2 separate regions of the Homo sapiens genome follow, and region 1 is linked to region 2. The links come from fine-mapping of genetic effects on gene expression. A gene starts in region 2. The other region holds a variant in brackets. All regions are shown on one strand. Distances are from middle to middle.

Region 1 (5,198 bases), 26 kb before region 2:
TCACTTCTTTCCACACCACCCAGTGGTTCCATTCCCACAGGACTGCAGAACCCCACAGTACAGGGAAGGCAGGGAGGCCAGACAGGGCCTCTGCTGCTAGAGGAGGCAGAGACTGTAGCACAATGTCCTGGTCTGGTGCTAAAGACTGAAGGCCTGAGGAACCATCCTCTCTCCCCTAAAGTCTGAAGGCTCCTTTACTTACTATTTTGCGTACATGGCTCAGTGCACTCCCCTCTTTGCCTTTACAGTTTTCCACTTGATATGGGGGTGTAATAACAACTTCTTCCATGACTACGATGTTTTTTTCTTGCCATTTACAGTCTTTAATGCTGGAAGGAGAAGACAGCAGGCGAAATGTAACCTCTTGGGGGCATCCCACATCTCCTGTCTGATGAATAAATAACTCCAGAAGGCTGATCCCAAGTTCCCAGCTCACCACTCAGCCAACAACTAGATGCCAGCAGCCCATATAGTAGCCAAGAAACATTCCTTGGGTGCCACTGGCTAGAAAAGCAATGAAACTCATGCACATTTATTCTTGGGAGAGCCCAGAAATTGTTACTCTGAAGCATCAGAGATCTGGAGAGCCATAAAAATGTGATAGTGGCCTCAAGAATCCAAATTAAGATAGCAGCCTAGGGCAGAGGCTGGCAAACTTTTTCTCTTAAGGGTCTTGTAACAAACATTTTAGGCTTTGCAGTCCATATCATCTGTTACAACTAGCACTGAGTTCTGCCATAGTTGTACAAAAGTAGCATGGACAATAGGTAAAACAGATGAGCAGATGTGGCCTGCTGGCATAGTTTGTCAACCATTGGCCTAGGGAGAAATACCACCTTTAGAAAGACAGGAGAACAGGTCGGGCGCGGTGGCTCACACCTGTAATCCCCGCGCTTTGGGAGGCCGAGGTGGGTAGATTGCTTGAGTCCAGGAGTTCGAGACCAGACTGGGCAACAGGGCAAAAACTCGTCTCTACTAAAAATACATACAAAAAATTAGCCGGTAGTGGTGGCATGCGTCTGTAGTCCCAGTTACTCCGGGGGCTGAGGTGGGAGAATCACCAGAGCCGGGGAGATTGAGGCTATAGTAAGCTAAAATCGCACCACTGCACTCCCAACCTAGGCAATAAAAGTGAGACCCTGTCTCAAAAAAAAAAAAAAAAAAGAAAGGCCAGGCACAGTGGCTCACGCCTGTAATCCCAGCACTTTGGAGGCCGAAGTGGGCGGATCATGAGGTCAGGAGATCGAGACCATCCTGGTCAACATGATGAAACTGTCTCTACTAAAAATACAAAAATTAGCTGGGCGTGGGACTGCGCGCCTGTAGTCCCAGTTACTCAGGAGGGTGAAGCAGGAGAATCGCTTGAACCTGGGAGGCAGAGATTGCAGTGAGCCAAGATTGCACCATTGGACTCCAGCCTGGTGACAGAGTGAGACTCCGACTCAAAAAAAAGAGAGAGAGAACAAACTCCCCATCTTCCTATGATCTGTACTCTGACCCTTATCACCCATAATGGGAGCTGCTCTTCAGACTGGCTCTTCTCAATTATCAGACAGTTGGGCACTTGCCAGACTGGGAAAACCCATTCCAGTTCACACTTGGGAAGCCCCAGGGCAGCTGATGCGACTGGGAGTTCCTTCACATACCTGTAAATGTTCAGATACTCACACCACAGCCTCAAACAGCTCTGATGCCAGCTGCCATCTGTGCACCAGATCCAGGGTGGTTAAACAGAGTAACAGATGGCAGTGTGGGGTGGGGGGAGGCGGGGTGGAGAGGGGTGTCAAATGTTCCAGTTTTTCAGCAGCTAGGGAAGCTAGTGGAGAGTCAAATGACTTCTGCTGTGACAAAATGTTTTTTTTTGAGACGGAGTTTTGCTCTTGTTGCCCAGGCTGGAATGCAATGCACAATCTTGGCTCACCACAACCTCCACCTCCAGGGTTCAAGCGAATCTCCTGCCTCAGCCTCCTAAGTGGCTGGGATTACAGGTATGCACCACCACGCCTGGCTAATTTTGTATTTTTAGTAGAGATGGGGGTTTCAACATGTTGGTCAGGCTGGTCTGGAACTCCCGACCTCAGGTGAACCGCCCACCTCGGCCTCCCAAAGTGCTGGGATTACAGGCGTGAGCCACCGTGCCCGACCAACAAAATGTCTTTTTTTTTTTTTTTTTTTTTTTTTTTGAGACGGAGTCTCGCTCTGTCGCCCAGGCCGGACTGCGGACTGCAGTGGCGCAATCTCGGCTCACTGCAAGCTCCGCCTCCCGGGTTCA[C/T]GCCATTCTCCTGCCTCAGCCTCCCGAGTAGCTGGGACTACAGGCGCCCGCCACCGCGCCCGGCTAATTTTTTGTATTTTTAGTAGAGACGGGGTTTCACCTTGTTAGCCAGGATGGTCTCGATCTCCTGACCTCATGATCCACCTGCCTCGGCCTCCCAAAGTGCTGGGATTACAGGCGTGAGCCACCGCGCCCGGCCCCAAAATGTCTTTTAAGAGGTGGTAAGAAGGTGGCCTGCTCTAACTCCCTGTGTTCATCCCAATCTACAATGGGAAAAGTGATATAGATATAACTTTCCCTTAATAAAAACTGCATCAGCTTTTAAAGAAAGGCACAAAACAACAAAATCAAAGAGAAGAAATCACTAGTTCTAAGTTATGGACTACTAGGTCTAGAAGGGATCCTTAGGGATAATCTAATCCAAAACTAAGTTTTACAGACAAGCAACTAAAGACCAGAGAAGACAACTTGTCCGTGATTACACTATTCTTCTGTGTGGAAAGGGGGCTACAGCACCTGCACCTCTGGATGCTGGCATATTGCCAATACCCTACCCAGCTTCCCCAGTAGACTTTTAGGAAGACAACCACCCAAAAGCCTGCCACCAGACAGCACAACCAGGTAGCATTACCCCAGGACAAAGGACCTCTCCGATCCCAACTCACGTCTTGTGAATGGTCTGGAAGAGCTGCTGGCCCTCTAGAGAGACACCAGCACTGATTGCATAGGCCTGGCTCAGCTTCTCCTCCTTCTCTGTCCGTGCTTTGCTGGCAAGCTAGGGTGGAAGAGAGGAAAGAGACTCAGAATAGGATTCATCTTCATTCTTGCCAACAGTCAGGACCTAAGCTGAAGAAAGGAGGCCAGGAAAGACTTGTTTGGACAGATTCTGTTTTCTCAGAAATGAAAAGTGAAACAAATTTTAAAAATCCACGACATACCTGAACAGTTACTGGTATTCCAAGAAAACGTTCCTTCCTTCCTTCTAATACTTACTGCATACCTACCATGTGCCAGACATTCACTATGCTAGGCTAAATATAGCCTGAAGTGGGTGGGGGAGACAGACTATAAACAAGTAACTGAAATCAAGGTGATTTCAGACAGTGATAAGCACTAGGAAGAAAATAAAGCACTTTTAACATTATAGAGTGTGGCTGGGGGACTATGTGATGGCAAATGATGGTCAGAGATTTAAAAATATATACATTTCCGGCCAGGGGAGGTGGCTCATGCCTGTAATCCCAGCACTTTGGGAGGCCGAGGCAGGTGGATCACGAGGTCAGGAGGTCAAGACCAGCCTGGCCAAGATGGTTAAAACCCTGTTTCTACTAAAAATACAAAAAAAAAAAAAAAATTAGCCAGGCGTGGTGGCGGGCTCCTGTAATCCCAGCTACTTGGGAGGCTGAGGCAGAGAATTGCTTGAACCCAGGAGAAGGCTGCAGGGAGCTGAGATCGCGCCACTGCACTCTAGCCTGGGTGACAGAGCAAGACTCCGTCTCAAAACAAAACAAAACCAAACAAAAAAAAATACATACACATACACACACACACACTTCTAACTGGGTGCATCACTGAGGTAGGGAGTTCGAGACCAGCCTGGCCAACATGGTGAAACCCCGTCTCTACTAAAATTACAAAAATTAGCCGGGCATGGTGGTGCGTGCCTGTAATCCCAGCTACTCAGAAGGCTGAGGCAGCAGAATCACTTGAACACAGCAGGCAGATGTTGCAGTGTGCCGAGATCATGCTACTGTACTCCAGCCTGGGCAAAGAAGTGAGACTCTGTCTCTTTAAAAAAAAAAAAAACAAACACACACACACACACACACACACACACACACACACACACACAAACACACACACACACACAGAATTTCCATTCAAGGCGAAAATTAAGATTTATCAGCTGTTGTGCTAGAGCCTCCAGTTTAAAAATTAATACATACCACACCTTCACAGACCACAATCTGAGACTCTAAAAACTCTTACAGAACATTATCTGTGCTCACATAGGGAGCCAGGACTCAAGTAAATCTAACCATAAACGCTGTCCACCTTTAACTTTAGCTAAAGGCAACCCTGTCCTGCTTTTGAGAAAAACGAAGAGTCTGAATTCTACGTCATGTCTGTTCCTTCACTGCCCTCTGGTGGAACCATCCACAAACTGATCAAAAGAAAATCTAGTAAAATCTGGTAGTCTACTACAATCTCGTAACTTCTACCCTGTCAATCCCTATCACCTCTCCAGCACATTTCTGATCCCTACCCCACACTACTGGTTGCTAGAGATTCCAGAGGTACAAATTTGTTTGAGTGTAAGACAAAACAAATGTGCTAGACAAGGTAGTTAAAACAAATTAAAGGCAAACAATGCATCTTAAAAGTCCAACAAATAATCTGGAGACTCTTCAGACCCATGAACATGAACAGCTGAGTCTAACAATGCTGCAGCACATGTGCAAACACGCGCGAGAACACACAATTTGTCCCCAAACATCAGTTCCTTAAATAAAAAGAGGCACTGGCTGGGCCCAGTGGCTCACGCCTATAATCCCAGTACTTTGTGAGGCCGAGGCAGGCGGATCACCTGAGGTCAGGAGTTTGAGACCAACCTGGCCAACATGGTGAAACCCCGTCTCTACTAAAAATACAAAAATTAGATGGGTGTGGTGGTGTGCACCTGTAATCCCGCCTACTCAGGAGGCTGAGACAGGAGAATCGCTTGAACACGGGAGGCAGAGACTGCAGTGAGCCGAGATTGTACCACTACACTCCAGCCTGGGCGACAGAGCAAGACTCCGTCTCAAAAAAAAAATGGGGGAGCCATACCTACAGCATATTCCAAAAGTACCTTAATGCTTGGAATCTTCAAACATTTATATTCTGCTTTTACAGTGATCCATCAAACCATAAACTAAGCATAGCT
Region 2 (5,198 bases):
TTAAGATCTACTGATAACATCCAGGAATAAAGAGAAAAACTAAACCTACATTTTTTAAAAAGATATCAGAACAAACAATTTTAAGTCAATTTTAAAAAATAAAAAATAGACAACAATGTATCACTAAGACTCAATGAGACTCATCTTTCCCACCATTTTAGAGAGCCAGATCTGCCCTTGAGTCCTTACCTTACTAACATTGAGTGAAGCTAGGGGAGGAGGGGTTTCTGTTCGGTCATTAATTATTTCCACTTCTGAAACATACTGTAAGTTTATGAGCAAGATGTCTGCATGGTTGGGCTTTCCACTGGAAGAGGGACATTCTGGTGAGAAAAAAAAAAGTTAAGGAAAAATAGGACAAGCAGAGGCACTGACACATCCCAAAAGGGGCATAGAAAACACGATTCACACAAGGCTTGTAAAAGGCAGGCCAGGAGCATGAGGGCCTTATAAGAATCACGGTTCTCCTCAGGAAATCTCTGCCTGTCACCTTCCTCCTGCCCAAATCCTTGGAAGCTTCCAAAGGAGTTCTGTCACTTTCTCTCTACTGGCTTTATGGAGAGGCATAATGCAGATTTAATGCGTTTGTCTTGAACCTATGAGCCAGACAAAAGAGCTAGACCTTTCTGTTCTTCGTATAATACTCTCTGTGTCTGCACAGTATTCTTTTTACTCTTTCAGATGTGAGCTTTCCCATTTTGCAGAGGAGAAAACTACACACTGGAAAGGAAATTCACCCAAGGTGACCCAGCCAGTTAATCCATTCATTCATTCACAAACTCATTCTCCAACCATTTAAGAGCCTACTGTATGTCAAGTAAAAGTTGAGTAATTCAGCCAGGCTCACGTGATGGCTCACGCCTGTAATCTCAACACTTTGGGAGGCTGAGGCGGGCAGATTACTTGAGGTCAGGAGTTCAAGACCAGCCTGGCCAAAGTGGCAAAACCCCGTCACTACCAAAAAAAAAAAAATTAGCCGGGTGTGGTGGCACATGCCTGTAATCCCAGCTACTCTGGAGCCTGAGGCAGGAGAATCACTTGAACACGGGAGGCGGAGGTTGCAGTGAGCCGAGATGGTGCCACTGCACTCCAGCCTAGGTGACAGAGCGAGACTCCGTCTCAAAAAAAAAAAAAAAAAAGTAATTCCTAGTTACAAGACCCTTCCAACTAAACCACTAATGTAAAAGGTCTTATTTCTTCCAGGTGTAACCTCTTATTTTTTTAAAAAAGCAACTATTCTTAGGCCGCGCGGTGGCTCACGCTGGTAATCCCAGCACTCTGGGAGGCCGAGGCGGGTGGATCACGAGGTCAGGAGATCGAGACCATCTTGGCTAACACGGTGAAACCCCGTCTCTACTAAAAATACAAAAAATTAGCCGGGCACGGTGGCGTATGCCTGCAATCCCAGCTACTCGGGAGGCTGAGGCAGAAGAATCGCTTGAATCCGGGAGACGGAAGTTGCAGTAAGCCGAAATCACGCCATTGCACTCCAGCCTGGGCAATAAGAGTGAAACTCCGTCTCAAAAAACACAACAAAAAAAAAAGCCGGGCGGTGGCTCAGGCCTGTAATCCCAGCACTTTGGGAGGCTGAAGCCAGCGGATCACGAGGTCAGAAGTTCGAGACCATCCTGGCCAACATGGTGATACCCCATCTCTGTTAAAAAAAAACATATACAAAAATTAGCTGGGCGTGGTGGCGCGTGCCCGTAATCCCAGCTACTCCGGAGGCTGAGGCAGGAGAATCGCTCGAACCAGGGAGTCGGAGGTTGCAGTGAGCCGAGATTGCGCCACCGCACTCCATCCTAGCGACAGAGCGAGACTCCATCTTAAAAAAAAAAAAAAAAAAAAGATGCCATAAAAAATTACTCCTCCAAAAAAAAATTCCAATAAACCCACCTGTGGCTCACATAAAAAGGGAAGCCGTGGCACATTTATCCCAACAAGGAAGTGTTTCATTTCCAAGACTGAGTTTCCTGGAGTAATTCAGAAGTCACTTCCACCCCAAAGAAGCAGGCCACCTTTTCCAATCAGTTTAACATTGCTACTTTCAAAAGGGAGGCTGCTACTACGTAAAAGGACTCCATGTGCTGGACTGATCAAGGCAGCATGAGAACTTCACTCTTTCACCTGTAACTCACACATCCCCAAACCACATAAGCCCCTGGCAAGCCCTCTCTGGAACAGGTTTCCAGTGCAAACATCCCCTAAACAGCAACTTCCAAATGACCGAGAAGCCTAAAAATCAGCACAGCCCCCCCACCACACATACACACGCATCAGCGAAACAAGCCACTATCCCTAGCTCAGATACAAACTCTGCCCTGAACTTACTCTCCCCCAAAACAGGCAAGGACCAATTTGGTCACCATCCCACCGCCCTTCCTTGGACGAAATCCCATCAGTGCACATGCCCTCCTAAATTCCATACCTTTGCCCTACCAGCAGTTCCTTACCCTAAACACCCCTCCCCATAATATTTCACCCGCCCCTCCTTTCCATCCGGGCTCCAATCCATCAGCCCCCTCCCACCACCACCCCCTCTCCTAATTACTGTGTCCCCTCTCATAACGTTCCCCCCAAAAAGCCATCCCCGTGTCAAGCCCTCCTCCACCCACTGATCCTCGGTAAAGCCCCAGCTCCCGCAAAGAGAGAGAGACAGGATCCCCAAAGCTGACCGAAGGGCCCGCGGGAGGGGGAGGGGAGCTCAGGGCCGTGCGCATGCGCCCCGGGCGCCGCGGTAGCCGGTCGCCCCTAGGCCCGGAGAGAGCCCCAGCCGCCGCCGTCGTCCCCCACCCCCCGACCACCGCACCTACACGCCGGCCCGGACTCGGGCTTCACGCAGGGAAGGATACTTAAAGCCAGCATTTTGGATTGGTAGTCAAAGGCTACCACCTCGCCCTGCAGCCGCTGCTCCTGGCACGTCCGGCACGACACCTGGCTCCCAACGCTGAAGTACTCGCCCGGAGGAGCCGCCATCTTGGGAGTGCAGCCGCGGCCGGCGGCGGCGGCGGCAGCAGCGGGCGAAAGCCGGGCCCCCAGTGAGCGCCGCGACGCGACGGCGCGCACGGAGCGTGCTTGCGTCACACGCCGGGGCGTGGCCTGGCGCTGGTTGGGGCGGGATCCTAGGTGGAGTGGGAAAGAAGAGGAAATAAAGGGGAATCTGAAAAGTATTTGTATAGCTGCGTCCGCTCGGTTAAGTGCTTGTAGAGTCCATTTTAGAAGTTAAGGATAAATGACCTACGTGGAATGAAAAGGGGAAAGAGGAGGGAGCTGCAGTCTCCATTATATGCACACCTTCCACACAAGAGTTTAATGAATGAATTTTATAAAATATGTTAACCCCATTTTGCATATGAGGAATCAGAGCCTCAGAGGACTTAACGATACTTGGACAAGATGATTATAAGGCTGGGAGCGGTGGCTCACGCCTGTAATCCCAGCACTTTGGGAGGCCGAGGCGGGTGGATCACCTGAGGTCAGGGGTTCGAGACCAGCCTGGCCAACATGGTGAAACCCCGTCTCTACTAAAAATACAAAAATTAGCCGGGTACGGTGGCGCGTGCCTGTAATCCCAGCTACTAGGGGGACTGAGGCTGGAGGATCTCTTGAACCTGGAAGGCGGAGGTTGCACTGAGCCAAGATTGTGCCACTGCACTCTAGCCTGGGCAACAGAGCGAGACTCTGTCTCAAAACAAACAAACAAACAAAAAAAGATGATTATAACTACTGAGTGATAGTGGAAAGAACATTGGCTGTGGAGTTAGATAAGCTGGAACCAGAATCCGAGGTCAGCCTCTTACTAAATCACCTGACCTTGAGCAAGCAAATTACCTGATCCTGTTTCTTCATAGGCATTTGTATTGTCACTTCTTGAGCATCTAACAGCCCTTTGAGGTAGGAATCAATGTCCTCCTTTTACATAAACTAAGTTTTAGACTAAACTTGTCCACGGTTCCACAACTAGCAAAAACAGTCTGCCTATTTCCAAGGACGGTGCTATTTACTGCTATACTCTGTTACATAATAATACCTACCTCATAGTTAGGAGGTTTAAATGCGGTAACGGGTATAAGTGCATGGCATGTACTAGGTCTTTAATAAATGGTAGTTCCCCCTTAGTCACCCATCACTCTTAGAAGTCAAGACACTTCCCCTTCTCCCTTTTTGCCCTCTCTCCCAGAAAGCCAGGCAAAAGGCAGGAATGAGGAGCAGCGGATAGTGACAAAAAGGGGCTTGGAGGAGGGGTTTTGCGCCCCTGCCCTTGAATGTCCGTCTGATGTACAAAACAGTCGTTTTCTTAATCTTATGCAAAGGACTATGAGCGTGCATTTTCAAGCCCTACTACCACCAATGGCTGTCGCTAACCCACCCACCGCTCACTATAGAAATTTTGGATCCTCGCTTCATGTATAAGAAACAGGTTGACCTTTCTCTAGTCCAGAGGGAAGCAAAGGGCCAGTCTTGGCGCGGCTTAACCTGAACAAAGTTCAAAAGTATTTCCTTGCCCTCCAAGAAACATAAACTTCCTGGTGTTGGAAGTATTGATACACTCATTATAATAGGAATAAAAATTCTGCTCCTTCATAGTGTGCTTTTTCAGAGAACTTTTTTTTTTTTTTTTTTGAGATAGAGCCTCGCTCTGTCACCCAGACTGGAGTGCAGTGGCGCCATCTTGGCTCACTGCAACCCGCACCTCCCAGGTTCAAGCGATTCTCCTGCCTCAGCTTCCGGAGTAGCTGGAATTACAGGCACGAGCCACCATGCCCGGCTAATTTTTGTACTTTTAGTACAGATGGGGTTTCACCATGTTGGCCAGGCTGGTCTCAAACTCCTGGGCTCAAGCAATCTTCCCGCCTCGGCTGGCCTCTCAAAGTGCTGGGATTACGGGCGTGAGCCATGTGGCCGGCCTCAGAGAACTTTCATGCCTCTCATCCTTGTTCTGGCCCCCATAATAAATCATACATAATTGCCATTCCAGTTTTCCACTTTTTATATGGAATCGTGATTATAGGTTTTCATATAAGACTTCTAGGAGCCATTAGGAAAGGCCTTCTTGGAGGAAGTGAAAAATCTCTACTGAGACCTGAAGGATTGGCAAGGAAAAAGAGTGGCCATGTTCCAGGCAGAGGGAACTGCACGGGCCAGGACCCCTAAGAGGAGAGAACTTGGTGATTTCAAGGAATGTATAGGTCAGAAAT

Which allele goes with the higher level. Alleles are on the strand shown, and positions count from the first base shown. SD is a standard deviation of normalised expression in the study named.
With allele C in place of T in region 1, the expression in skeletal muscle of the gene that starts at base 3,060 in region 2 is lower (moderate effect, 0.43 SD a copy in GTEx).

Evidence for each region.
Region 1: its variant is fine-mapped to the expression of LSM12 in skeletal muscle (GTEx, PIP 0.96).

What each region holds. Positions count from the first base shown.
Region 1 is chr17:44,037,210-44,042,407 of GRCh38, forward strand. It overlaps LSM12 (LSM12 homolog), which reads right to left. Exons shown (of 5, transcript NM_001371445.1): 3 at 2,938-3,047; 4 at 203-329. Among named protein-coding and RNA genes, the nearest start is that of TMEM101, 25 kb to the left of the region's middle. The variant C/T (reference allele first, on the strand shown) is at 2,273.
Region 2 is chr17:44,063,612-44,068,809 of GRCh38, forward strand. LSM12 (LSM12 homolog) reads right to left here and starts at 3,060. Exons shown (of 5, transcript NM_001371445.1): 1 at 2,853-3,060; 2 at 190-323. The coding sequence starts at 2,976. RefSeq lists silencers at 2,593-2,732, 3,023-3,142.